Regions from separate parts of the Homo sapiens genome. Here regions 2, 3, 4, 5, 6 and 7 are each reported to be linked to region 1. Evidence: microRNA targets listed by miRTarBase, many of them from high-throughput screens and not tested one by one. Region 1 holds a microRNA gene; each other region holds the end of a gene's coding sequence.

What was found. Region 1 holds the annotated microRNA hsa-miR-140-3p (UACCACAGGGUAGAACCACGG, at 1,509-1,529, opposite strand). A microRNA usually pairs through its seed, bases 2 to 8, with sites in the 3' UTR of a target mRNA and lowers its output. Matches are read on the target gene's strand: a 7mer-m8 pairs with bases 2 to 8, a 7mer-A1 pairs with bases 2 to 7 and ends in A, and an 8mer does both.
Region 2: the mRNA of GPC1 is a reported target of hsa-miR-140-3p. The part of its 3' UTR that is shown has no 7-base or 8-base seed match.
Region 3: the mRNA of CLDN7 is a reported target of hsa-miR-140-3p. The part of its 3' UTR that is shown has no 7-base or 8-base seed match.
Region 4: the mRNA of ZBTB21 is a reported target of hsa-miR-140-3p. Seed matches in the 3' UTR shown: 7mer-A1 at 1,578-1,584.
Region 5: the mRNA of SERTAD4 is a reported target of hsa-miR-140-3p. The part of its 3' UTR that is shown has no 7-base or 8-base seed match.
Region 6: the mRNA of GRAMD4 is a reported target of hsa-miR-140-3p. Seed matches in the 3' UTR shown: 7mer-m8 at 3,413-3,419.
Region 7: the mRNA of CXCL6 is a reported target of hsa-miR-140-3p. The part of its 3' UTR that is shown has no 7-base or 8-base seed match.

What each region holds. Positions count from the first base shown.
Region 1 is chr16:69,930,605-69,934,670 of GRCh38, reverse strand. It overlaps MIR140 (microRNA 140), which reads right to left and starts at 1,590; the gene lies at 1,491-1,590. WWP2 (WW domain containing E3 ubiquitin protein ligase 2) reads right to left here. Exons shown (of 24, transcript NM_001270454.2): 14 at 3,444-3,519; 15 at 3,091-3,162; 16 at 2,781-2,869; 17 at 542-701. RefSeq lists a silencer at 819-1,009.
Region 2 is chr2:240,465,494-240,469,559 of GRCh38, forward strand. GPC1 (glypican 1) reads left to right here. Exons shown (of 9, transcript NM_002081.3): 8 at 1-155; 9 at 565-2,583. The coding sequence ends at 797. It also overlaps a transcript of ANKMY1 not described here. Among named protein-coding and RNA genes, the nearest start is that of GPC1-AS1, 11 kb to the left of the region's middle.
Region 3 is chr17:7,256,756-7,260,821 of GRCh38, forward strand. It overlaps CLDN7 (claudin 7), which reads right to left. Exons shown (of 4, transcript NM_001307.6): 2 at 4,066; 3 at 3,887-3,971; 4 at 3,148-3,781. The coding sequence ends at 3,619. ELP5 (elongator acetyltransferase complex subunit 5) reads left to right here. Exons shown (of 8, transcript NM_203414.3): 5 at 102-283; 6 at 1,833-1,928; 7 at 2,071-2,171; 8 at 2,816-3,182. The coding sequence ends at 2,930. Among named protein-coding and RNA genes, the nearest start is that of CLDN7, 3.7 kb to the right of the region's middle.
Region 4 is chr21:41,987,400-41,991,465 of GRCh38, forward strand. It overlaps ZBTB21 (zinc finger and BTB domain containing 21), which reads right to left. Exons shown (of 3, transcript NM_001098402.2): 3 at 1-4,066. The coding sequence ends at 3,496. Among named protein-coding and RNA genes, the nearest start is that of ZNF295-AS1, 20 kb to the right of the region's middle.
Region 5 is chr1:210,241,935-210,246,000 of GRCh38, reverse strand. It overlaps SERTAD4 (SERTA domain containing 4), which reads right to left. Exons shown (of 4, transcript NM_019605.5): 4 at 1-4,066. The coding sequence ends at 3,664. Among named protein-coding and RNA genes, the nearest start is that of SERTAD4-AS1, 10 kb to the right of the region's middle.
Region 6 is chr22:46,676,730-46,680,795 of GRCh38, reverse strand. It overlaps GRAMD4 (GRAM domain containing 4), which reads right to left. Exons shown (of 19, transcript NM_015124.5): 19 at 1,011-3,649. The coding sequence ends at 3,545. Among named protein-coding and RNA genes, the nearest start is that of GRAMD4, 58 kb to the right of the region's middle.
Region 7 is chr4:73,837,062-73,841,127 of GRCh38, forward strand. It overlaps CXCL6 (C-X-C motif chemokine ligand 6), which reads left to right. Exons shown (of 4, transcript NM_002993.4): 2 at 1-35; 3 at 142-225; 4 at 562-1,699. The coding sequence ends at 580. Among named protein-coding and RNA genes, the nearest start is that of CXCL6, 2.4 kb to the left of the region's middle.

The sequences.
Region 1 (4,066 bases):
TGATTCCAAATGCCCTTCCAGAAGGCTTAGTGTCTCAGTGGGACATTCCCAAATGCCGTGACAGTGTCACCTCCCAGAGACAGGCAGCAGGTGGGCAGCTATGGTTTCACCTGGCCCTGTCATCCCAAGGCCCTCAACAGAGCACATATTTAATGTTCAGTAAAGTCTGTGGCCCAGCGACCCTGGGCTCCCTCTTGACAAGTCCTGTACAAAGCAACATGGAAACTCTTCACTACCTACAGGGCAGCCACTGAGAAAGCTCTGGTTTCTCCAGAACTCTCTCTAGCTTCTTGCATTTTTAGGTTACGAGCTCTATGGGGGCAAAGGGTGGAGCCCCGAGAGGGTGAGCCAGTCCACGGGGGCTGCCGTTCACGCCACGCTGCCTCCTGGTGAACAGGCCCAGGGCCTCCTCCAATGCTGCCCCTTCCTGGAGGTCTCAGAGAAAGAGCAGATTCCCCTGGTGCCCCTGGCACACTTCACCAGGAGAGGGAAGAGGAGGGAGAGGAGGAGGGAACTAGGCAGACCCCTGGGGCCCCCTTACCATGGCGATGAATCTGCCTATAAAGCGAAAGTAGGTGAGGTGGTCCGGGTTGATGGAGGAGGCGGGGTTGATCTGCAGGCAGTAATTGTTCTTTCCGGCATATTCAAATAAACAATACATAGGGTTGAGCACCTCATGAGACAGGAGGAAAAACCACTCTCTGTGAGGGAAGAGACAGAAAAGACAAGAATAATGGGTCCCTTCGTGCACATCTGCACAGGAGCTGTGTCTCTTCACCATCGTGTCTCAGGTTAGTATGGGGACACGTGTCCCAGGGAGTCGAGCCCTGTGACAAGCACCCGGGCTAACCTATATGAACAGCTGGTCAGTGAACAGGGCAGGCTCAGACCTACAGTGAACCAGGGCGGCAACTGCATTTGAGGATGATATTTGGGAAAACGTGTGATTGTCGGCTCCCAGGTGATGTGTTCCAAGACTTTACATCACAATATCCAGAGCTTCTAATGGTAAAGGGGGTCCTTGTACCCTGGGTCACCATGCTCAGTTGCCTAGGCTGTGCACTGCACAAGGGCACGATGCATGTTTATTACAATAATTTTTCTGCAAAGGTTCTGTTTGAATAGTAACTACCCTGTTTCCACTCTACCTGGGCGGGCAACATAACGTAAATACACAGCAACACATTTCCAACCCCGATCCATGACAATGTAATCCATGCTGCCTTCAGATGAGAAACCTCATGCCCACCAGCTATGCAACACTCTTGCACTTTGCCCTCCCTTCACCCCCAGACCCCAACACCATCCCCGTTCCCACACTTCCACGCATTCATCTGAACCAACACCCGTGCCCTGGGTGCGAGCCTCAGGCATGAATTCAGAGTCCTTTTGGGCTTGAGCTAAACCAGCAAGGGGATGTCCCAAGGGGGCCAGTCCCCAGCTGCTGGGCTGTTTGTGGCTGGGCAGACGAGGAGTCCGTCGACGCAGAGGGTGCCCCGGTATCCTGTCCGTGGTTCTACCCTGTGGTAGAACAGCATGACGTAACCTACCATAGGGTAAAACCACTGGCAGGACACAGAGAGAGACACACACAGGGCGCGGCCACACCAGAAGCCCACCAAGCAGAGCCTGGAGAGGAGGTCACCACGGAAAAAAGGAACATCCATCCACGGGGCCAGCGCAGAAGGCAACGCCACCACCGAACAGAGGACCAGAAGCAAGTTAACCCAACACCAAGCGGGAAGACATGCCCACACCGGGAGAGGTCTCGAGCGGAGAGGTCGCTGCGGGCCACAGCGCTCTCTCTCTCTGCCGGGGCCCTTCTGCCCTGCTGTCCAAGGCAGCATTTCCCAGAGGGCCTGTTAACTTTTATGGGTGGACCAGGGTGAAGGCAAGACAATGCTTTGGACTCTTTTTAGGGTGACATAAGCCGTTACAGTTTTACTGACCCCAGGCATGTGACATGCAGTTGAGCCCTGCTCAAGGCCCTGTGGATCGTGACACAGCTTATCCACACGGGGACACCTGACTTCACCTGCCCTGGCTGCCTTAAGAGGAGGGGATCCCAGGGTCAACTCTAATGGATGACCACATGGCCCCTATATTCAACTGCCCAGATGCTGCTGGCCTGGTTGTTAAAGTACAGAAACATGACACATTGGTAGATAACAGAGCCATTGTACTGAGCTCTCGCCCCTCCCAGGAGTCCTCCGTCGCCTCATGACCCAGTAACTAAAGGCTTAATGTCCAGCCCAGTGGGGCACCCCAGGCCCCTGTTCCAGGCCCAATGGACTGGCCACATGGATTCACGTATTTTGTTTTTTTGTTTGTTTTGTTTTTGAGATGGAGTTTCGCTCTTGTTGCCCAGGATGGAGTGCAATGGCACGATCTCGGCTCACTGCAACCTCCTGCCTCCCAGGTTCAAGCGATTCTCCCGCCTCAGCCTCCCCAGGAGCTGGGATTACAGGCATGCACCACCACGCCCAGCTAATTGTGTATTTTTAATAGAGACGGGGTTTCTCCATGTTGGTCAGGCTGGTCTCGAACCCCCGACCTCAGGTGATCCACCTGCCTCAGCCTCCCAAAGTGCTGGGATTATAGGCGTGAGCCACCGCGCCTGGCGGGTTCACGTATTTTGAATGCCACACTGTGCCCATTCCTGAAGATGCATGAGAGCTTTGGGAGGGAATGTGAGCAGGGGGCAGGCAGCTTTCTGGCCATTGATGCTGTAGCCTGGGGAAGCGGGGTACAGGGCAGCCTTCCGGGGCACTCAAGCTCACCTGGCGATGCCCCCATAGTCCAGGCCCTCCTCGCCACGCATGATGATGTAGAGCCGGCGGCGCAGGTCATAGGGTTTCATGTTCATGATCTGGGAAGACAGAGCATCGGGCCAGCCTGCCACTCTCCCTTCCACAGCAGGCAGGGGCGGGAGGGACAGGGGACTCTAAGGCCCAATATCCAGCAGACACAGTCACCAAGACTCACGCCCTGGAAAGTCTGCAGTGTGGGTTTAACAGGCCACGCGATAGGAGATGGGGTGCTGGGAGGAGGGCGTCGGCCTGCCACTGGTTTCGGGCACCATGATCTAACCTGTTGGAAGGAATCTTCGAAAAGCGTCTGCCTGGAAACGCTGATCTTCACGTGGCTAGGTAGGGCATTTGACTGAAAAAAAAAAAAGAAAAGAACTTTAAATCGAGCCTCAAGTGGTCATCTGTTCTCCTGTCTGTATGAACAGGCATTCCCCAGCCTGCTGGGCCAGGAGGCAATAGCATGTGCCCTAGGAATGAAAACTAGCTTCCTAGAGACAGCCAGCTCCGGGTTAGACAAGTGTCTTGCGCCCGCCTAAGACACAAACATTCCGATACCTGCTGCTGTGCCGGGAACTCACACTGAAATAACTCAATAACCCCAACTGCCACGGGAGCCCCAGTACCAGAACTCACATGGCAGAGGAAACGGAACTGGTGATACTTCCACCGAAAACTGCGGTCATAAGCACCAGGGGAACCTTGCTTCGTCCTAGGAAGAGCAAAGATGTTCAGGGGTTCATGCGATTTCTCAGAAAATGAACAATTTGTCTTTGTCAGCCCTAAGGAAAGCTGGTGCTATGTTAATTTAAAGATTAGTAATGTAAGGTGAGGAAGTGACTGTCATTAAGATCCTTGAAGAATAAAAAAGAAAATCTAGAAATAAAGCCAGACTTCTTGCTTTTAGAGAAATAACTCTAGTGTCATTCGGAATAAACAGGATAGTCCCTTCCTCCCCATCCCATCTTATTTATTTGTTTGTTCGTTTTCTAGAGACGGGGTCTTGCTCTGTCACCCAGGCTGCAGTGCAGTGGTGTGATCATGGCTCACTGCGGCCTCGAATTCCTGGTCTTAAGCGATCCTCCCGCTTTAGCTTTCCAAGTAGCTAGGACTACAGGAGTGTGCTACCACACCGAGCTAATTTTAAATGTATTATTATTTTTTAGAAACAGGGACTCACTCTGTCACCTGAGCTGGAGTGCAGTGGTGCCATCATAGCTCACTGCAGCCTCAAACTCCTGAGCTCAAGGGATCCTCCC
Region 2 (4,066 bases), not on the chromosome of region 1:
TGACGGCCTGGCCAACCAGATCAACAACCCCGAGGTGGAGGTGGACATCACCAAGCCGGACATGACCATCCGGCAGCAGATCATGCAGCTGAAGATCATGACCAACCGGCTGCGCAGCGCCTACAACGGCAACGACGTGGACTTCCAGGACGCCAGTGAGGGCAGGGCCTGGCCGGGCGGCCAAGGGGCCAGGGTTGGTGGGGGTGCCACAGGGGTGTGACTGCCCTCCGGGTTCCCCCACCCGAGGGGCCCTCTGCTCCGGCATCACCACAGTGAGTCTGAGGACGCTGTGCTGCCCAGGCACGATCACCGAGCCCTGCACCTCTGCGGCGCCCTGGAGGCCTGGCCGGGATGTCTGTTGGCTTTGGCTCCAGGGACCAAGGGAGGCAGCCCCAGGGAGTGAGAGTCTCCCAGCCTCAGGGGTCAGCGGGGATCAGGTGCTGCTGGTCCTGGGATTCCACACCGAAAGGATGTTGGGGTCACCTGGCACGGGCCCTTACAGGGTGGTGCTGCACTGGGGTCTCCTGTGGGGACCTGCCTGCCGGAGCCTCCTCTCCTTCCCAGGTGACGACGGCAGCGGCTCGGGCAGCGGTGATGGCTGTCTGGATGACCTCTGCAGCCGGAAGGTCAGCAGGAAGAGCTCCAGCTCCCGGACGCCCTTGACCCATGCCCTCCCAGGCCTGTCAGAGCAGGAAGGACAGAAGACCTCGGCTGCCAGCTGCCCCCAGCCCCCGACCTTCCTCCTGCCCCTCCTCCTCTTCCTGGCCCTTACAGTAGCCAGGCCCCGGTGGCGGTAACTGCCCCAAGGCCCCAGGGACAGAGGCCAAGGACTGACTTTGCCAAAAATACAACACAGACGATATTTAATTCACCTCAGCCTGGAGAGGCCTGGGGTGGGACAGGGAGGGCCGGCGGCTCTGAGCAGGGGCAGGCGCAGAGGTCCCAGCCCCAGGCCTGGCCTCGCCTGCCTTTCTGCCTTTTAATTTTGTATGAGGTCCTCAGGTCAGCTGGGAGCCAGTGTGCCCAAAAGCCATGTATTTCAGGGACCTCAGGGGCACCTCCGGCTGCCTAGCCCTCCCCCCAGCTCCCTGCACCGCCGCAGAAGCAGCCCCTCGAGGCCTACAGAGGAGGCCTCAAAGCAACCCGCTGGAGCCCACAGCGAGCCTGTGCCTTCCTCCCCGCCTCCTCCCACTGGGACTCCCAGCAGAGCCCACCAGCCAGCCCTGGCCCACCCCCCAGCCTCCAGAGAAGCCCCGCACGGGCTGTCTGGGTGTCCGCCATCCAGGGTCTGGCAGAGCCTCTGAGATGATGCATGATGCCCTCCCCTCAGCGCAGGCTGCAGAGCCCGGCCCCACCTCCCTGCGCCCTTGAGGGGCCCCAGCGTCTGCAGGGTGACGCCTGAGACAGCACCACTGCTGAGGAGTCTGAGGACTGTCCTCCCACAGACCTGCAGTGAGGGGCCCTCCATGCGCAGATGAGGGGCCACTGACCCACCTGCGCTTCTGCTGGAGGAGGGGAAGCTGGGCCCAAAGGCCCAGGGAGGCAGCGTGGGCTCTGCCAATGTGGGCTGCCCCTCGCACACAGGGCTCACAGGGCAGGCCTTGCTGGGGTCCAGGGCTGTTGGAGGACCCCGAGGGCTGAGGAGCAGCCAGGACCCGCCTGCTCCCATCCTCACCCAGATCAGGAACCAGGGCCTCCCTGTTCACGGTGACACAGGTCAGGGCTCAGAGTGACCCTCAGCTGTCACCTGCTCACAGGGATGCTGGTGGCTGGTGAGACCCCGCACTGCAGACGGGAATGCCTAGGTCCCTTCCCGACCCAGCCAGCTGCAGGGCACGGGGACCTGGATAGTTAAGGGCTTTTCCAAACATGCATCCATTTACTGACACTTCCTGTCCTTGTTCATGGAGAGCTGTTCGCTCCTCCCAGATGGCTTCGGAGGGCCGCAGGGCCCACCTTGGACCCTGGTGACCTCCTGTCACTCACTGAGGCCATCAGGGCCCTGCCCCAGGCCTGGACGGGCCCTCCTTCCCTCCTGTGCCCCAGCTGCCAGGCGGCCCTGGGGAGGGGTGGTGTGGTGTTGGGAAGGGGTCCTGCAGGGGGAGGAGGACTTGGAGGGTCTGGGGGCAGCTGTCCTGAACCGACTGACCCTGAGGAGGCCGCTTAGTGCTGCTTTGCTTTTCATCACCGTCCCGCACAGTGGACGGAGGTCCCCGGTTGCTGGTCAGGTCCCCATGGCTTGTTCTCTGGAACCTGACTTTAGATGTTTTGGGATCAGGAGCCCCCAACACAGGCAAGTCCACCCCATAATAACCCTGCCAGTGCCAGGGTGGGCTGGGGACTCTGGCACAGTGATGCCGGGCGCCAGGACAGCAGCACTCCCGCTGCACACAGACGGCCTAGGGGTGGCGCTCAGACCCCACCCTACGCTCATCTCTGGAAGGGGCAGCCCTGAGTGGTCACTGGTCAGGGCAGTGGCCAAGCCTGCTGTGTCCTTCCTCCACAAGGTCCCCCCACCGCTCAGTGTCAGCGGGTGACGTGTGTTCTTTTGAGTCCTTGTATGAATAAAAGGCTGGAAACCTACAGCAGGGCGAGGCCTCGGGGGGAGAGAGAATGTGTGCGTATGTGTGTGTGTGTCTGTCTGTCTGGGGCTTGGGCATGGACCACACTTCCGTGTTTGGGGTGAACGTGCAGCCCCTGCCAGCTGCGCCCTTCAGCCTGTCTGCAGCTCCACCTTGCCCTGGACAGACTCCGGTCTGTCCGCCCCTCTCCTTGGTGCAGGGGAGAAGGAAAAGGCCAGGGCACGGAGACCCAGATGGCCTCCAGCAGGCCCCACCTCCCATCTACCTCTTCCTGCCTCCTGCCCCTGCTCTGGGCACACACAGCACAGAGATCCTCTACCCCTGGAAGGTTCTGGTTCCTGCCAGGTGGCCTCAGAGATGCCCAAGGGGCTAGAGAGAAGGAACCAGCATTGTCCCAAGGATGCCCTGGTGGTCCAGTTTGTCCCCAGCCACCTTTCTCTCGAGGCGGAGGGTCCTGTATAACCCTAGGGGCTCCCTATAGCCCCGCTCCTGTTCCTGTGGGGTCATGGCCAGAGGCTAAGTGGCACGGCGGCACTGGCAGAAGCGCCCACTGTTCTGGGTGTGTCCCTCAACTGCTTTATTGAGAATTGCAGCCAGTACAGGTTGGTCTGGTGAACATTTTTAACATTGCGTTTCCATCATCTGGGACCCAGGAATAGAGGGCCCCCTAGCAACTGGGACCTCCAGGCCCCTTGTGAGCGTGAGAGCACAGAGGGGTGGGTGGGCACCCCAGGAGGGAGATGCAGCTCCACCCAGCCCTGCTGAACTCCACTGCTTAGTAGGTCCCAGCTCCGGGCAGGACGAAGGGCTGCACACAGGCCTCCCACAAAGCATCTGCAGCCGCCAGGTCCCTGGTAGCCACGGTCCTCACTTGCAGGCCCCTCCGCAAGTCCCAGAGGCCCGGCTCCTCCCCTGGGAAATGAGGGTGGGGTGGAGTCCTCTCCGTGGCGGGCCAGGGGATGCAGCCTGGGGGCTCAGCGGGGCCCCTAGGGGACAGGTGAGCAGCCAGACACTCATCAGCGGCTGTAGTTGTGGACAACGCATTTGGTCCAGCCGGCAGGATCTCAGGCTTCCAGGCACCACCTTGCCCAGCTGCTTCAAGACTTCCACAAGCCCTTTTTGAACCTGGGCAAATGCATCTTTCATGTCAGGGAAAGGAGGACACAGGTGCGTGTGCACTCTGTGCAGAGCCGACACCACGCCAGGAGTGGGTGGGCAGGGGCACCCGGCTGGTCTCAGCCCTGCCTTCCCGGCCACACCTCAGACCACCAGGGAGCTCCCAAGTTCTGCCCACCCTAGTGCTGCCCCAAGAGGCTGCTCAGGGAGAGACCCCTTCCAGCCAGGGCTGGCTCTCAGTCCCTCTCGGTTCCTCACAGGAATTCCAGAAGCCACAGACAAACTGACCCACCCACACTGATGGGCAGAGAGCAGCCCCTCAGTCAGCCTCCCTTGAGCAGCTCAGCCCAGCCGTGGTGGGTGGCCCC
Region 3 (4,066 bases), not on the chromosome of region 1:
GCACTGTGATGGAATTGTGAGGCTCTCTCTTCTTCACTGTTAGCTCCCAGGCCACCAACCTGAATGCTCCCTACTATCCTACATTTCTTGTCCTCCTCTAGGTGACAGCTCCTCAGTGGGGAAAGTGAGTGTGCTGGGCTTGCTACATGAAGAGCTTCATGGACCAGGCCCTGTGGGAGCTCTCAGCAGCCTTGCTCAGACTGAGGTGACCCTGGGCGGTACCATGGGCCAGGCCTCGGCCCACATCCTGTGTCGGAGGCCCCGACAGCGCCCAACTGACCAGGTCAGAAGAACCAACAGAGAAGGACTGGAAACGGGGGACAGAGAAAGGGGTGGCACGATGGGAAGAACAATGAAAATGCTGATGTTTCAAGGAGACTTTAAAAACAAACTTTTTTAGAGATGGGGTTTCACTGTGTTGGTCAGGGTGGTCTCAAACTTCTGGGCTCAAGTGATCCTTCCACCTCAGCCTCCCAAAGTGCTAGGATTACAGACGTGAGCCACTGTGCCCAGCCCTCAGTGAGACCTTTTTTTAAAAAAAGCTGATTTAGGTATTTCTCTGTTTTCTATCACTCACTTCATTTAATCCTCTCAGCTATGGTTAAGGTAGATTGTTTTATTATCACCATTTTTCAGGCTGGAAAGCCAGTCCAGGGAGGGTTTTATTCCCTTGGAGTTTTTTTTTTTTTTTTTATTGGACAAGGTCTCACTGTTGCCCAGGCTGGAGTGCTGTGGTGCAATCATAACTTACGGCAGCTTTGACCTCCCATGTTCAAGTGATCCTCCTGCCTCAGCCTCTGGTGTAGCTGGAGGTGGGAGCACAGGCATGTAGCACCACATCCAGCCAGCTTTTTAGTTTTTTATACAGATGAGATCTCACCCTGTTGCCCAGGCTGGTCTTGAATAACTAGGCTCAAGCCATCCTCTGGCCTTGGTCTCCCAAAGTGCTGGGATTACAGGTGTGATCCACTGCACCCGGCCCAAGGAGGTTTAAATTTAAGTCACTTACCAAGGTTATAAAGTGTAAGTGGGGCCCAGGCGAGGTGGCTCAGGCCCATAATCCCAGCACTTTGGGGGGCCGAGGTGGGCAGATTGTGAGGTCAGGAGTTCGAGACCGGCCTGGCTAACATGGTGAAATCTCATCTCTACTAAAAATACAAAAATTAGCTGGGCATAGTGGTGGGTGCCTGTAGTCCCAGCTATTCGGGAGGCTGAGGTGGGAGAATCACTTGAACCTGGGAGGCGGAGGTTGAGGTGAGCCGAGATCATGCCACTACACTCCAGCCTGGGCAACAGAGTGAGACTCCGTCTCAAAAAAGGAGTAAGTGGGCTGCTCTGCCTAAGGAGTCGCCATCCTTTTATTCCTTTACTTCCTTAATCAACTTGCTTTCACTTTTGAAAATAAAATAGAGGCTGGGCGCAGTGGCTTACACCTGTAATCCCAGCATTTTGGGAGGCCGAAGTGGGCAGATCACCTGAGGTTAGTGGTTTGAGACCAGCCTGGCCAATATAGCAAAACCCCATCTCTACTAAAAAGACAAAAATTAGCTGGGTGTGGTAGCACGTGCCTGTAATCCCAGCTACTCGGGAGGCTGAGGCAGGAGAATCACTTGAACCTGGGAGGCGGAGGTTGCAGTGAGCTAAGATCACGCCACTGTACTCCAGCCTGGGCAACAAAGCCAGACCCTGTCTCAAAAAAAAAAAAAAAAGTTGAGGGCAGGAGCTGAAAGCAGTCAGTTAAATAGGTGATTGGGGGCTGAGGATGTGAGGTCCTGGAGTCTGTCTAGTTTCTTCAGTAAGATGAAAAAAACTCTTTTCTTTTTTCTCTCCAGACTCAGTGGTTCTCCATCCTTCCGGACTTCAGCCTGGATCTCCAAGAGGGGCCCTCTGTAGAGTCCCAGCCCTACTCCGATCCTCATATACCCCCGGTATCTAAGAATGCCAAGGCCAGAACAAGGAAATGTAGTTTAGTATCTGGTCACGGGAGAGAAAATAAAAGCTGCAGAGGTTGGGGGTGGGGTCAGGGATTCTAGGGATGGGGCAGAGTGGCAGCATCCTTTGTACCTACAGGTGGATCCCACAACTCATTTGACCTTTAACCTTCACCTGTCCAAGAAAGAGAGAGAAGCCAGAGATAGCCTGATCCTGCCCTTCCAGTTCAGTTCTGAAAAGTAAGGTTGGGACCTGGGTACGTGGATCCCTGAGTAGATCCCAGCATCTGGGCCATGGAGAGGTTGGGGCAACAGGTTATTGATTAACCTGACTTTATAGGGACTGAAGTCCACCTCCAGAGACAAGTCCAAGTTCTTGATCCACCCATTCCCCCTATAATGGCAGAGGACCTTTATGTCTCTTTTCTCTCCCTTATACCCTTGGGTCACAGCTCCAGTTGTCCCCAGAGCACCCTGGGCCTGGGCTGAGCCAGACCAGACCCTTGGGAGGTGGCCCTATCCCTAGGCAGTGGTGCTAGGAGGACAGAAGGCTATATGGGCGTGGCAGAGGCTGGTTAACAAGGGCTTAGTACACGCTTGCTGTTCTGTGCCCAGTATGTGGGCGGATGACGCAAGACTACAAGATCCTTGCCCTCAAGCTGCTAGGAACTTACGGTTTTATTAGGAGAGCAGTACAAGGGTATCTATCCCAGTACCAAATGGTGCTTCAGCTCTAACATGGAGGTCAGAGAAAGGGACTTGGACCAATAAAATGACATGGAGGCCTAACAGGTTGCCTGAATGAGAGTCACAGTCACCTGGAAGAAAGTATCCAGACCCAACCTGTTAGCTACCCTCACCAGCACCAAATCTTCCCTTCTCAGACAGCAGGCTCTCCTGCGGCCTAGGCCAGGGCAGGCTACCAGCCACATCTTCTATGAGCCAGATGCTTATGATGACCTGGACCAAGAAGACCCAGATGACGACCTGGATATTTGACTGGCCAGATTTGATTAGATTGTAATTGGAGGGGGCGCGGGAAGACTTTGGGCCCAGAACCATCTTTCTATTGTTTGTGTTAGCCTTACCCTGTCCCTGCCCCACCTTGGTTCCCCTTGTCTATGGAGCCCCGCCTTGTGAGCCAGGAAGCAGCGTCTCATCAGGACAGAAGGTAGGATGAAGACATGGGGTAATGTGAGAGAGTAGAACACCCCCGTACCTAATAAAAATCTTTATTTTTTTATTAAAAAAGAAGTACTTTGGTAGCTATTTAAATAAGAGGGGGGTGGGAATGAATGTCGAGATACGAGCACCTGCATCTTTTAGTCAATTGTCAGTGGAGTCAGTGGGGTGCTAAGTGTTCTGAACTGAAGTAGGTGCACTAAGGTTCCAAGCTCCCTGCAAGGATCTGGACGGGAGGAAAGCAGAGGCCCTGAAGGGAAAAAAGCCTGCTTCCCAATACTTATTTTTTATTACTGTACAAAAAGCACACTCTCCCTCTTTTTGTCTCTCCCACCAACGGCACCCCCCCACCCCCAACCCAAGAGGACTATACATGGAGTGCAGGGACAGAGTGACCAGGAGGCCTTTGTCCGGCACCCTGCCCACAGGCTGAGCTCAGCCCCAGGCCCTTTCAGGCATCTAGACACTCCCATAGCCTGTCAGGCTGGGGCAAGGAGATCCCAGGTCACACATACTCCTTGGAAGAGTTGGACTTAGGGTAAGAGCGGGGTACACGGTACCCAGCCTTGCTCTCATTCCCAGGACAGGAACAGGAGAGCAGTGCACCTCCCAGGATGACTAGGGCAGACCCTGCCCAGCCAATAAAGATGGCAGGGCCAAACTCATACCTGTGAAGAGAAGGGGGTGGTTAGAAACCCTGGCGTGCCTCTGCCCTCCTCCCTATTCCAGGACCCCAGACCTGTCCCCTTAGGAGGCAGGGTTCCCAGACTTACTTAATGTTGGTAGGGATCAAAGGGTTATAAAAGTCTGTGACAATCTGATGGCCATACCAGGAGCAAGCTACCAAGGCGGCAAGACCTGGAGACAGAATGAGGGTTTCAGTATAGTGAGGCCCCAAATGGGCGCCTTGCCCAGCCTTGCTCCTCCCAGATGGGAGAACCCGGGGGCTCACC
Region 4 (4,066 bases), not on the chromosome of region 1:
AAAAAATTAAACTTCTTAAAGTGCTAAAACCACAAAAAGCCATAAATGAAAACCTATTTTTTAAAACTTAAAGTTTAGTAGTCAGTGTTAAAGAACACTTTTAAAGAGTACGTGTCAGCATTATTTAAATCAATAATGCATTTCACAATTATTGCAGAAACATCACTGAGACATCGTAAATTGTCAAACTGACTTGTAATCCAGTTAGATACAATTTATACAGAAATCTATTTGGAATTATACCTAATTACTTTTTACTAAGAAACTTCAAATAATTTTACTTCCTGAAGTTCCAGATTACAGTTGTATACACACATGCATGCATGTGTGTACAAACCCAATTTGAGACAACAAAGGCCAACTTTAGATCTGTTAATTCTTCCATCTCTCCCTCACCCTGATCAGAGAGTTGGCCTTGTAGGTGCATCCACACCGCACCTCCGTGAACAGACACATTTTATTCCTGTTTCACAGCAGCTACTCTCATTAGCACCAATGGGACTACATATGGATTCAAACGGTCACTCATTAAGTGCTGGGGCACATTTTTACAGGCAAGGCTATAAACGTTCCATTCCAAACCAGAAAACCAAGAACATCACACATCTCCCCACAAATGCAAAGAACATCACTGTTGAATTGTTAGTTGTATATTCTGGTAAAATTATAAATGCATACTAACTAGTTTTAAAGGTGAATATTCTACAAATCTTCAAATATTACTGTTAAAATGCACAATATTTGTTACCTCCATTGCTTACTTTGAGTGATAAAAACATGTTTTATGTTACTCCTTCCTTCTCCCACATAAACGATTCAGTATCAAGTTCTCAGATTAACAAAGAATATATTAAAACATTTTACATTCTTTCCACAACTGCATAAAAAAGCAGGCATCCTGCATACTTACATGGAATAAAGAGCTTTCTACATTTTCAAAATTAATTACAATCCTAAAATATATTTACATGAATATCTTCACTAGCTAATGAGTTGCAACAATTTAAGACCAACTTGTTTTACACCAAGTATTTGCCTACTGGCTGAGATAAACATTCTTAAAAAACTTTACTGAATAAAGTAATTAACATATCTTTCATTATTTTACTTCTTAACATTTAAAATAGTTACATGAGTGGAAGCATATTTTTTTTGACCACCAAAATAAACTCTTTCAGCCTAATGCTTTTAAAGTACAGTATAAAAAGTAATAGAAAAACCAGAACGGCATTATAAATGTTTTTGGTTCAAAATTTTATTTGAAATCTTATATTCCTTGCTTAGACAAAAATGTGAAGACAAAACACCAGTCATTTTTAAAATCTAACAGATATGCAGAACCTATGTTTAGATCAAAAATATTTTTTTTTTTTACTGATTAACAATATTATTTTTAAAAAATCTTCGAAAATGTAGCATAAAGGTTTAGGTCCTGGGATACTGAATTTATAATGCCAAGATACTCTGTATCATGGAATTATCACCGATAGATACTCTAATGGCCATGTAGGTGATGATTACTCAGGGAAACTGTCTTCTTTTGAAGTGACAGCTACCAAGATGGACAGAGTAAGAAATACCACATTATACGCGGAATGAATTCAATGTACAATAATCCATCCTGATGTTTCATGTAAACCCATATGCTTTAGTTTTATCCTTAAAATGCATAGATTTCTTTAAGAAAACAAAGATGGCAAGAATCAATAACTGCAATTTATTTTCCCTTCTCCATCAAATTTAAGAAAGAATAGGAAGTTAACTACTAAAATATTGTGGAATTTTGGAGTTTTTTCAAGTGAAAGAATACAAGGCAAAATTTCATATATAATATCCATAATGTACAAAGTCAATCAGTATTTTATAAAAATGTCTGGTTCAATAAAAAAAATGAGAATATCTTTCCTACCACTGGTATGGAATGTTGGCAATAAGATTGATGGGTACAGAGTTATTTTCTGCTAGAGCACAAATCTAAAATTATTTCTTAATGACAGTAGTTGGCTTTTAAAAAAAATTTGAAAGAATACCTCGTAACACAAACTAGAGTCTAAATTGGTATTACTTTCTTAAAAGGATTTTGTAGTTTCGTTTTTTTAATACATCTAACTCCCACCCCCACAAGTAAAAGTTTTCCCTTTTGAAACACATTGAACTTTGGATATCCTACTGAAAGGCTTTCAATTACAAATTATACATAGTATTCTTTGAAAAGCCCAAAACCCATGGAGCAAAATAAGTAGCTAAAACTAATTTTGGACCACTGATAGTGCTCTAATACCTATTTTTGAAATATTAAGCAATGATGTAGAGAATGGCCTTGCCCATGATTTTAACCATCAGACCCCCAACAAATTCTAACAGAAATTGTCACAAGAGAGAGGCAGGAAAATGTATATGTCGTATATATTGTTCTTGGAAAGCATGTTGAAACTGCAGTGAGGTGTTTCTCCTCTGCTCTATCTGGAAGTAAATGGTAATTTAGAATTTTACATCAGCTGTGCTAATTCTTGAGTGTCTGGGATCTATGTAAATATATGTCCCGACCTTATTTGTTACACTAATGTTAAAATCAAAATTAGTGCCATATGGTTAGCTTTGTTTTTTGTCCTAACTACACTCAGATTTTCAATTTGTGACAGCATAAATCAGAGGAAATGAAATATGTGCAGTCCTTCAAATGCTGGTCTGAATTTAGACTGTGGTGCAGTGTACATGTAACATGGTACAAGTTTTTATAACAATGTCTATCACTACTGAAGCCCTTATAAACTGACTGTAGGGGACTTCCATAAATTGTTTTCATTTCCCAGGTCTTCCTTAGAGTTTAACTATCATTTATTATATTGACTGAGAGCAAGTTTTTGTTAGTTTATAAAAATCTAAGTGTTACTATTGCTGATTTAAATTTCTCACAATTTTCATACAAAAAGAAGTTTTACATGACCACAAAATACCAAATATTTATTTTTATCAAGTGTCAGGATAACTTATTAAAGTTGAGATTTATCTTTTATTGCTAAAGTAGTCTAAGATATAAATCAATACTGCAAACTACTCCACTTCTTCCTATTTTGGACTTAAGAACATGGTTAAGATTTAACTAGAACTCAAGTGTCTAAAATAATTAAAAGAAGGAATACTTCGACAGTATTCCACTAATCAATAAAAAACCAAAAACCTCAATTAAATGATTATACTGACACCATGGAATGAGGAACCATGCACACAATCAAGACTAATCCAATTTCAACATTAATGAAATCAAACCATCTTGTTCTTGTAAGGTCCAGAACCACAATATTTTAAAAGCTGTATTTCTAAAGTTAAGGACATTACTAAGTAATTATCAATTTGCCTCCAACTTAATTTCAAGCGTAACAATCTCCAACCTTTATTATTCTTGTTTAAAAAATATTTTGTTTCTTATGACACATTTCACAATTCAGGTTGAAATCTGGGGACTGCCTCCCATAGGTAAAAAGTGTTGGTCTTTCAATTGTGTGTTTGTTCGTGACTCCAAAGACTAAATGCAGTCTTGAATGTCCTGTGGCAAAGTTTACACATAAACTGTCTTTTAAATGTGATTGCTGAAAGGGGTGGGGCATGGTAAAAAAGGGTGTCTGATTCTTGGGGCACAAACAGTTTTTCTGTGGCTGGAGTTGGGTTTTCGGACAGGCCTGTGGGGCTGTCAGGCTCCAGAGGCTGGATCTTGGGCAGTGGTGGTGGCGGTGGCAGAGGTGGTGGAGAGGGAGAGTTTGTGGGAACAGGGCACACCTCAGATTCCTTATGTGCCGATTCCTCTGAAGCCTGAGACATGTGCGATTGGAAGTGACTCCAGAGTCGAAAATTAGTGCGAAAAGCTTTGTTGCACACGTGACAAATAAATGGTTTCACAGAGCACAGAAGCTCCTGGTGACGCTCCAGCTGCTTATGCACCGTGAACATCTTCCCACACTTCTCGCAGGGCCACAGGCTGGCTTCTTTGCTAGGACCCGCTTCTTTGGGGGCTGTGCTGGCCTCGGGTGCCTCTTCTTCAGCCTCCTCCACAGGCTCCTCTTTGACT
Region 5 (4,066 bases), not on the chromosome of region 1:
ACTTCAAATTTAAGGGGCTGTCAGAAAAATGGAATTTCACAACTAATTATTTCCAAAAAAGTCTCCTGCTCACCATTTGTTAGAAGGATATAAAAACCTAGCTGCATCACATAGGAATCCTTGTATCCTTGTCTTATATTTGTTGCGAAGTTGATGTCTCTTAATGGTCATGTCTTCTACAAGTTGTCCTCTGCTCTGCTCCTGATACACAGAAAGGAAGTCACCAAGTGGAGCTGTAATACAAGTTCATAACTGGAGGGGTGGGTAGCCATGTCTTGATGGAGTTAACTATGAGCTCTAAAAATAAATACTTTCATTCCCTTGCTTCACCATTTAACAAAGAAGCATGTAAAATGTTCTAAATTTCTGTTGTCTTAATAAAAGGTCACGCCAAAGATGCTTTCCCCTAATTTTCAATTCATTGCCAGGTAGTGGCATCTGCTGGTTTTGAATTTTTCTGTCTTCCTCCCATGTCCCCTGTCCCTGCAATCCTGTCCCTAGGACCCCTGCAAAGTGAAATGTAGAATAATAGGATTTTGAGTGGAAAGATGATGATGAGACTTTTGCCCTTTGAAAATCCCTTTGCCAGACCACCTTCTATAATCTGCTGTTTTTAGAAAGGAAGGACCAGAGACAAAGGTTAATGATTTCATTAATGATATGCACCCAGATGCCTAGGGGAATAGCAATTAAAGGCACTCTTGGGGAGCAAGGCAACTTTCTTAAATGAAGATTTCCCCTCATTTATCTTTTAATAGTCTTGATTCTGTCATATCAGGTTTTCCTTAAAGCAGAGCACAGCAATGAGAGAAGGTGCAGCTTCCAGGCGCGTAGATACCAGTGTGGGTGGAGGATGTCTTAGCTTTTCCAAGTTGCTCGAGATAAAACTATAGAATCCAGTTAAGAGATATAACTTACTATGAAGGGTGTCCTGGCCACTCTAGGAAAATCTAATGGAATATCTCATGCATAAAAGACAATGCTGGGTGCATGGGAGGTGAACACAGGAAGTCCTAGCACTCTCGCCTACTAACAAGAGAATTTTTGTGGTTTGGATGGGTGTTTAGGAATTAGTGTTTGGTGAAGAAATTTTTTTTTGCAATGCTAGAAATATCCTGGAAACAAAAACTTGATGACTAAAAAGAACAGATTTTTATGCTGCTGGATTCAAAGGCATCACTTATCCTACAGAGAAGTGATTCTAGTGGGTTCTACCGAACAGGTGCAGGCGCTCACAGCTCAGGTGAGTGCTGCTGAAAATCACCAACTTTGTCATTTTACAGCTTTGGCCTTCAAGAAAAACACTATCTAGTAATGCTGGGGCTTTTAAAAAGCAGAAGGATAAGTCCTTTCGTTCATATTTAAATCTCCATGAGATATTACACTCATAATAAGAATGCTACATTTGACAAATTAATTAGTTTTTAACTAGCTTTCCCCTTTATCAAATATTAGCTCCTAAGAACATTAATATGGAATTGTATGGAATGCTACTAGCAATAATCTGTAGCTGTTATAACTGTTTACATATGGGTCATCTTCACAGTTTGACAGTTCATAATGCAATCAGCTAAGATTCAGTATTTATGGCTTCGTGTTATACAATTTTTTTCAGAGACACTCCAGAAAGGAAAATCTTTACATTCTTTCAGACATAACCTTATTGATCACCACATCATCTATTAACATTGTGCTTCTTAATCAATAGAAACTTAAACTTACGAACTAGGATCATTCTGAAACACCTGTCAGATTGGCATTTTAAAATACTCTTTAATTTAGAAAACTCCTGTGTGGCCACTATCCACTACAGTTTCTAGATGTTTTGAGTTTTTTAAAGGAGAGAGAATAATGGAAAAGAGAAACATAGCCAATAGCCATTAAAATTTAAAAAACTTAATGAATTTTTATCATCTTAATAAATATATATCAAGAAAACCTCACTTTATTACAACACATTCATATACAAGCATCTATTAGCTAAGTTTTGAACATCAAATGTTTATCAAATATTGAAAATAAAGGACAAAACATTACTAGACTATTTAACTATAACACAAGAAAATGTTTTAAAAATTGGTCTTTGTGGACAATTGTCCAAATGATCCTACTCATACACTGTATGAATGAGACCTATATTTAATATTAATAGCAATAATAAAAAAAGCTTTATCTTGGAGAAACTGGGAGGGCTTACTTATTTCCTCCGTTTGGCATTTGGTTTCTGTGAAGTATTATTTGAACAGGCCCAAGTCAATTAGTAAACTTGGAAACTGGAATACAGTTTAGCAGGAAGAGTTGGCTGGAGTGGAAGGAAGGATGGTAGGAGGGCCACTCTGAACACTTTTCAAATGTACAAGTTAAAGATATTATTTGGAAAATGTAGACCAAATACATAGTAACTATTATAGATTAAGTCCCATTTCTCCAAAATAACTTTCAAAAACCTAAAGTCTTTACATTCTTTAAGATAAACCTTATTGATCACCACATCATTTATTAACATTGTGCTTCTTAATCAACAGCAAAGTTCATATATAAAAACCCACATGCTTTTATAATCTAAACAAGTGAAATGATGCAAAACAGAGAAAAGTATAATGCATGCCACTGGTTCGTGAACTTCATTGGACAAGAAAACAAAACAAAACAACCCAAAACCCAGAAAACCCCAACCCCAGCAACACACAGTTGCCATAGAAAAGCTCGAGCAGCCCGTGCTGCTTTCTAACAGCTCTCTCTCTCATTTCCTCCATCCCTATTGAAAAAACGGCGAATCCAAAAGCAATTGGGCATCAAAAATAAAGAATAGAGATGTCGAATCAAAAGCTGAACACAATAGTTCAAAGTTAACAGTTTCCAAACCATATTGATCCACCCTGTGGTTTTTTTTTTTTTTTTTTTTTTGTCCTGTTTGTTAAATCCCTGCTGTAACTCTGATTTATCCTTAATTTTCACATTGGCAAAAATTAAGATAAAAGTAAGGCACCAAAAATCGCCCTGTATAACACCTCTCTAAAAGCCTCATCACCCATCACAGGCAAGCCAGAAACTTGCAGGGAATACCCTCTCTGTGTAAGACTGTTGATTGCCGCCCCTAGACAGGTGTGTTTCATTATGTTACATCCTATTTTCATCTGTCACACAAGACTGTTAGGTACAAATACTTAACAGCACCATTAAGCCATTTCATCTAGCTCCCTGTCTTTAGTCTTTTATTTAAAAAAAATATTGTATCATATAGAAGAAGCAGGTATCTTTGCTGGTTATATTGATTTGCTTACCAAATAACTCCCTAATTAACTGGCAAACATGTAGAAATTTCTTAGCTAGTGACAGGCTCCTTGGGGGGCAATGGAAATATTGCAAGGGCACATTGTCCCCCAATCTCATCTACTGATCTTTTCCGTAAGAAAACTATGATATACTTTTAAGCATTAAGTCAATCGTTTCCTTGGTAAAAATCACCACATTTATAAGAAGCTCGCTGATGCCTGCTATACAGATGTTTTACGCAATCTGCTCTCCAGGCATTAAAACGACATGGCATGTTCATGGCATAATTTTATCTGTTGTACAAAACTACAAAATCCATTCAAAATAAAATTTACGAGAGCTAACTGATCATGCTGTGCATGCTTCAAAGTTCGGTGAGAAGATGGCTCATATTTTACTTCCTTTGCTGCAGCACAGTTTGTTACTTGGTGGTGAAGCCTCCTTTTTCCGTAAGGACTTTTTCCAAGATTCATTTACATTGTTTCTTTCATTATATCCGGTCTCAAAATAATCATAAAATTGGCCTTTGCACTCAAAAGCAAGGTCATTTCCCACAGGTTCGTGGCTGAGGGGGCCACCATCTCTGTTGGTGTCATCATTTGCTTTCTCATCATTTAATTTGGCCTTTTCCTGAACACCAAGTGATCTGACATTAGTGACAAAGATTTCATTGGCAGGTATCTGGCCATCACTCTTGTAAATAGATGCACTACCTACATCAAAATCCACCTGGCGGGAACAACTCGGTAAAGGCAAAGGGGGAGAGGAAGAGGAAGATGAGGAGGAAGAA
Region 6 (4,066 bases), not on the chromosome of region 1:
GGATAGGTGGGTGGGTGGATGGATGGATGGATGGGTGGGTGGATGGATGGATGGGTGGGTGGATGGATGGGTGGGTGGGTGGATGGATGGATGGATGGGTGGATGAATAGGTGGGTGGATGGATTGATGGATGAGTGGGTAGGTGGATGGATGAATGGATGGAGGGATGAATGGGTGGGTGGATGGATGAATGGGTGGGTGGATGGATGGATGGATGGATGGATGGATGGACGGACGGACGGACGGACGGACAGATGTGGATGAATGGATGGATCAGTGGCTGGCTATGTCGATGGAGTACGCATATGTCCTACTTTCCGAAGCTGTGCCCCTTAGGGTGGCGTGGCCCACTAGACCTAGTTTCCGCCTGGCTCCAGCTCCCTTGCTGTGTAACCTGGGGAGGTCTCTGCCTCCAAGGGGGCTCCTGTGGGCTTGAGGCACAGGAGGCTAGGCAGCACCAGGTGCACCTGGCACAGGCTCATGCCCAACTCCAGGGGTTTCAAAAGCCAGGCAGGTCCTTGCACCCTTCTGTGTCTAGTCTCAGCATCCAGATGGACCAAGCCCCAAGTGTTGCTGGAAACCCCTGTGTCCAGAACCCCCAGGCAGCCAGGACACCAAAGTGGAGAGGGGCCAAAGCCTGCATGCCCCCTGACCCCAAGGCACTGCCTCTGCCTCAACCTCCCCCACTTCGCCCTGTGCCAGCCCTGGGTACCCTCCCTGCAGGCCGCGTCCCTCGCCACCTGGCCTCCTGTCTTCTGGAACTCAGGCCCTGCCCCCTGCTCCCAGCCTCCAATGCCCACGTCCAACAGGACTCTGCTTCTCAGCCCCACCTCACCCCACAGCCGTCACTCAGGCCGCATCAGTACCCAAACGCCCCGCCGCCGGCAGCCGTGGGGCCCCAGGGAGTGGCGGGCTGGCAGCGGCACTGAGGGCCTGGGGTTGGTGGCCCAGCTGGCTCAGGCCGCCTACAATGCGTGTGGCCCTGCCAAGGAGGCAGACAGCCCTGAGCCTTAGCACAAAGCATTTTAGGTTTATTTAAATAAAAATTATAATTTATACAATACTTTTTCTTTAAACAAACAAAGTTTTCTTAAAAAAATGTTACAGGAGAATTTTTTTCATCGGTTCTTAATACAGTACAATCCTTTTGTTGAACAAAAGTCACACTGGCAATGATTATTTACAGATCCAAAATAGACTCAGGCTTCAGACATAAAAAATTTAACATTCGTCTAGTTCAGTGATTAGTCACAGAAATTAAACATCTGCCCAGATGTACACAATTTGGTAAAAACTACAGCTTCTCTCCACGGGGAGCCCAGAGCCCGTGCCGATCCGCGCTCCGCTCCCGAGGACTTCCAGGGAGGGGCCTGTGCTGGCAGCAGAGCCAGTCGGTGGCCCTCCCCCGACCCCCCGCTCCCCGAATGTGGCCCTCCCTGGGGGCTTCGGCCACACCTGGCACGTGGTCAGTTTTCATCTCCCTTTCTCCACAAAAGGGACTCGAACTAAACCACCCGACGCTGGTAAAGCCCCATCTGCCCCAGGGACCCCTCCCGCTGTGTTTGGGGACTGAATCCCAGCACCTAGGAAGAGGCGCTCATTGGCCCCGAGGCCCCGGACCCATCCTTGGGCACTGCCGGGCCCTGGGGAGAGAGGTGTGGCCATTGTCTGCGGGCACTGCCTCTGCAGCCGCCCCTGGGGGTGGGTCAGTGCCCACCCTGTGTTGCCTCAGGCGCCAAGGTGGGGTTCACTGGGATATGTCCCCCTCCCCTGGTGCACCAAGAGAGCCAGTCCCCTACAGGAGCCAGACCCACGGCTCAGAGCGGGTTCTGTCCCCATTCGGGAAAGGCCGCCGTGTGGTCATCCTGACGCCAACGTCCGCGCAGTCCAGAGCCACGGGGGCTCCGCTCCACCGCCTGGGATAGGACATGTGCTTAATCTGGTGATCGGCGCAGCTCCCCCCAAAGCACCCCCGGCACCAGCGTGTGACTCTGCGGCCCCTCGTGAAGGGGGTGAAACCAGCCCATGCCGCCGGATCCCTCACCCACACCAGCAAATGAGGATCGGAGCAAAGATAAAAATTACATCTGAAAAAGGATACAAAAATAAGAAAACCAGCTTGCTCGCTGTAAAAAATAGAATCTTCTGTTTCTTCAAAAAACAACAATCTCAACGACACCCAAGGGACTCAGGACAAGCTGAGGGAGCTGCGGGATCCGCCCCAGCAGACACGCAGGCCCGCGGGGTGGCCACCTCCTTCCAGGAGGCCCAAGCCGCCTTTCCCTCCCTTCAGCCCAGCGCAGGCGGCCCCAGCAGACCAGGCCTGCGGGCGCTCCCTCCACAAATGCCACCTTGTTCCCGGGAAGCCCAGGCTTCCCTGGGGCAGGGCGGGGGCTGGGGGGGTCTGTGCCCGGACCGGCACCGGCTAGGCACGCGGGGGAGGGAACGCTGTCGCATGTCGGCTGCAGGCAGTGCAGGCCCAGGCCTCTGGGCTCGGCTCACGGTTGCTCCCTAAAGCACAGGGGCTGCCAGAGCCTCTCGGATGGCCCAAAGGCGGCTGCAGCCTGGGCCACCATGGTCCCGGAACACTCCTCCCCACTTCCTCCCCCAACCAACCCAGGCAACCGCAGCCTGGGGGCCATGTGCCAGACATGCCACAGTGCTCGGAGCACCTCCAACAGCCTTCGCGGATGTTCTCCTGGGCCTTCCAAAGAGCAAAGTGTGAGAAAGATGTGCTTTTACCTGCACCATCCTGTGCCCTTACTGGTCCCCAGCTACAGACCTCCTGGCCGGCGTGTCAGGCCGAGAGCAGCAGGCAGGCCCTTACAGACGCGGTGCTGAGCGCCCTGGAGGCCAGCAAGGAAGGTGCCACCAAAGACACTGAGGGCAGGCGAGGGGTGGGCCCTTCTCACCCTCTCTGTTCCCGTGGAGCGAGTGTGGAGCGCAGGCAGGGTCACTGCGCCCGGCCCCAGCCCGGCACCAAGGGCAAATGCCACAGGAGGGTCTCATGTAAGAGGAAGGAGGGCCGCCAGGCCCGTTTCTCGGTGGTTGGTGAAAGGCCCCCATGTCCCTCCTTGACGACATCTTTCTGTCCCCAGGAGGAAGGGCCCCGCACTCTTCAGCTATGGCTTTGGTGGTGGACGAGCTTCTGGCCTCTGGAGAGCGGGACACAAGGTTGCGAGAACCTCTTGGGGTGGCTGGAGAGGTTTCTCTGTCCAGGCTGGAACGGAGAAGGGCAGGGCCAGGGGTCCTGTGTGTCTTCTCCACGGGCCCCCGAGGGCCTCTGCCCCCTCCCCCAGTCTGCGGGTGGCCCTCAGAGGCACCTGACGTGCCCTGTGGGAGAGGGGCACCCCCGTCCCTGTGAGCCCTGGCCCCTTCTTGGTCGATAAAACGCAGAGGTCAACACAATAGAACCACAGGTCCAGGAGAATTATTGCAAAAGCTCATGAGGATGTCCAATTGTTTCCACTACCAAATCGTAAAAAAAAAAAAAGAAAAAGAAAAAGAAAAAGAAAATTCCAGCAACGTCCTGGGCAAGTCAATACTAGCTGTCCCCGCCAGACGCTGCCGCTGAGGTGATCTTGATGTACTGGCTGAGAATGGTCTCGAAGGCCTCATCCCTGTGCACCATGGCACCAAACACGAGCGGCTGGCAGGGAAGAAATGCCACCAGTGAGCATGGCACAGCCAGGCTGGCGCCAGGACCAGGACCGAGACGAAGTCCAACACCAGCCCCAGGCCAGCACGCTAGTCACGTGGGTCTGGGTGCAAAAGACAGGTGTCTCCCCACCACCCGGAGCCAGGCTCCAGCCTTCAGGGGAACAGAGCCAAGAGGCAGAGGGGAGCCAGGCTTTAGCCCCGTGCCTCCCTCCTCCCAAGTCACTGAGTCAGGGGACCCCTGTGCCCAACATCCCTGTCTGTCCGGTGACTCGATGGCCCCAGCAAGATTTCCAACCCAACCTGGACGCAGCCCCAGGCTCTAGCTGCTGCGAGGGAGGGGGCGGCTTTGTGACCCTGCTGCCCAAACTAAAACTCTGGCTGTCTGCCCCACGCTGGTCCCAGGGTT
Region 7 (4,066 bases), not on the chromosome of region 1:
CCCGCAGGCCCGCAGTGCTCCAAGGTGGAAGTGGTGTAAGTTCTCCTGTGTTGCTGTGTCCACTGTGACTTAGGCAAGTCCTCCAGCCTGGGTCGTCAACCTTTGTGGCTCATGGGTGCATCCTCTTTTTCTTTACTTCAGAGCCTCCCTGAAGAACGGGAAGCAAGTTTGTCTGGACCCGGAAGCCCCTTTTCTAAAGAAAGTCATCCAGAAAATTTTGGACAGGTATTTGTCCCTTTGATCTTTGTGGTGTTTTAATATCTTCTATGGAAAGCATATACTTCACAATGTCCTTATTCTCTCTGTAGGATTTAGACTATGCTTAGAATTATAAGGTTGTTAAGAAGAATAAGGAAACTTTTTTTCTGGAATGTTCTGGGTAAACCTTTATCACCAATCTTACATGCCTGAACAATTACACAGAGCTCATTACTGACATCTATTTTTTGTCTGCTCTTTGCTTTTATTGATTTTTTTCCCCCACCAAACGCTTTTGAAAACCAAATGTAGCATACAAGAGTGTGGGAATTGGTTATACTAATATAACTCTTTTCTCAACAGTGGAAACAAGAAAAACTGAGTAACAAAAAAGACCATGCATCATAAAATTGCCCAGTCTTCAGCGGAGCAGTTTTCTGGAGATCCCTGGACCCAGTAAGAATAAGAAGGAAGGGTTGGTTTTTTTCCATTTTCTACATGGATTCCCTACTTTGAAGAGTGTGGGGGAAAGCCTACGCTTCTCCCTGAAGTTTACAGCTCAGCTAATGAAGTACTAATATAGTATTTCCACTATTTACTGTTATTTTACCTGATAAGTTATTGAACCCTTTGGCAATTGACCATATTGTGAGCAAAGAATCACTGGTTATTAGTCTTTCAATGAATATTGAATTGAAGATAACTATTGTATTTCTATCATACATTCCTTAAAGTCTTACCGAAAAGGCTGTGGATTTCGTATGGAAATAATGTTTTATTAGTGTGCTGTTGAGGGAGGTATCCTGTTGTTCTTACTCACTCTTCTCATAAAATAGGAAATATTTTAGTTCTGTTTCTTGGGGAATATGTTACTCTTTACCCTAGGATGCTATTTAAGTTGTACTGTATTAGAACACTGGGTGTGTCATACCGTTATCTGTGCAGAATATATTTCCTTATTCAGAATTTCTAAAAATTTAAGTTCTGTAAGGGCTAATATATTCTCTTCCTATGGTTTTAGACGTTTGATGTCTTCTTAGTATGGCATAATGTCATGATTTACTCATTAAACTTTGATTTTGTATGCTATTTTTTCACTATAGGATGACTATAATTCTGGTCACTAAATATACACTTTAGATAGATGAAGAAGCCCAAAAACAGATAAATTCCTGATTGCTAATTTACATAGAAATGTATTCTCTTGGTTTTTTAAATAAAAGCAAAATTAACAATGATCTGTGCTCTGAAAGTTTTGAAAATATATTTGAACAATTTGAATATAAATTCATCATTTAGTCCTCAAAATATATATAGCATTGCTAAGATTTTCAGATATCTATTGTGGATCTTTTAAAGGTTTTGACCATTTTGTTATGAGGAATTATACATGTATCACATTCACTATATTAAAATTGCACTTTTATTTTTTCCTGTGTGTCATGTTGGTTTTTGGTACTTGTATTGTCATTTGGAGAAACAATAAAAGATTTCTAAACCACTGATGTTGTTTCTCCTTCTTATACAGTTACTATTTATCTTTAATTCTACATTATTCAAAATATTACCTCTGCTCTTCTCTGGCTGGCAGAGAGGGCCCTCATTCCCCAATACCATTGCATTGGTTCAACTTTTCTCCATGTTCAGCCCCCTTCCAGTTACTCCTTCACAGCACCAATAGCCTCTGGGGTCTTTAGAAAACACAAATAGGATAAGATTTTCCTATCTAAATTCTTAAATGGCTCCCTGTTTCCTAGACATGAAATAAAAGTTGCTAAACATGATGAATGAGGTTCTGTCTCATCTCACTCCTGATCATCAGTACTTCAACTTCCCTTGTGCCTCACATTCACTATAGTCAGGCGTTCAGTTCCCTAACTAGGCATGTTCTTTCCCCAGGCTCATGACTTTGTATTTGCTAGGGTCTCTACCTGGAAAGCATTTACGTTTTCCTGCGTATAAGAGGAGGCTTATTCATCCTTCAGAACTCAGTTCAAGCAATATCTCCTTCGTGAATTTTCCTTGGCACACTCAGCAAAGCTTGTGGTTTGCATCTTGGTGTTCTCATAGCATCTTCTAGACATCTGCACTACAACAAATATATTCCATTGCTTTTATTTGTTTATAGGTTTCTTCATCTAACTGTATTAAGAGCTCTCCTAGAACATCGACCATATTTCATCCAACTCTGCATTCCAAATGTGTGGCATGGAATGACTTAATGAATTAATAAGTTATCCTGACCCTCAGGTAGTCAGATGTTATACTAAAATCAATAATCTGGCTCATGGTAGATTTTGATTAAATTGTAATTTGTTCACCTTCTTTTCTCCTTCTTGTCTACAGGTAATCCAACAGGGCTTTAGCATGTGTAATCCACCCACCCCTCATTTTCACTTAGCTACCTCCCATCTTTCCTTCCTTTGGGGATAGCTTACATATCATTTTCTTGATACAATCTTTATAACTCTTACTCCTCCCAGATTAAGATCCCTTTTATATACTGTCATAGCACTCTGTACTTTTTATTCATAACATTTTCTCATGAAGGTGACTTTAGAGTTTATAGAGCATATAGACATGTGGTCATGTGTTTAGAGTCTATCTATTCTAGCTTCACTGTAAGTTCTATGAGAGCAGGGACAATGTTTATCATCTTTATCTCAGTTCCTGGTACAATGCCTAGCACATAGTGTATATTTAAACAAATGAGTGATCTGGTTAAACAAGTCTCTCTGTTTCTCTAGTATTAAAAGTGTCGTTTCATATAAAATACCTGTTCTTAGGAAAAGCAAGAAAATGAAACGAAGAAGACTAACCGAATTAGTATGTGTATACATACATTCACACTGCAGCTGGATTAATATATTATATATGTTTATATTGGCACGTACTTGTATACTTTAGTATATCTAACCTAGGCTTTCCTGTATGTTTTATCTCTCTCTTTATATATAAAATATAAATTGGATTAATATTTTTTAATTATTATATATTGATATATTTAAATAACAGAGAGAGAAAGAGACACAAAGATATGAAAAAACTTAAAAAGTAGCTTCAGAGATGGGTTTTCTAATCATTTTTTCAACAATAAAAAAGTACAAAATATCTCTAATTTTTTAAAATGCATTAAACTTCTGTGGTCTCTTTTTGCTCTCTCAAATGGTATTTTTTTTGAACTTATGGATGATACAGTAATTCTGGGGAAATACTAGAAAGCAAACCAAATTACAAAAATGAGCTCTAAATTTCAGTGTTTAAAACAATCCCTGCTATGTCACATTAACTCCAAAATACTTATTGAAAAATGCTTGATTATAAAAGATTAAAGAATATTAAATGCCCTTTGTACAGGTGAAATATAAGCTTCATAAGGAAATAAACATTGCTGGTTAGTTTTTTGTTTTTGTTTTTTTTTTTTGAGACCAAGTCTCACTGTCACCCAGGCTGGAGTTCAGTGACACAATCTCGGCTTACTGCAACCTCCGCCTCCCAGGTTCAAGTGATTCTCCTGCCTCAGCCTCCCATGTAGCTGGGACTACAGGCATGCACCACCACGCCTAGCTAATTTTTTGTATTTTTAGTAGAGATGTAGTTTCACCATGTCGGCCAGGCTTGTCTCAATGGTTTTTTGTTTGTTTGTTTTTTTGTTTGTTTGTTTGTTTTTATCATCAAGCTCTGTTTTTTTAAGAAGCAACACTTGTAAGTTTAGTTTGTTCATAGAAATAGAATGAAACATGATTTCTAATATTCTTGCAATTCTAGTTGTCAGGCCCATTCCGCAAATGGTCACTCTATAGAGAAAATAGATTACAGTATATTACTGAAGAGTAACCTATACAAGCAACTCAATGATAGCTACTGT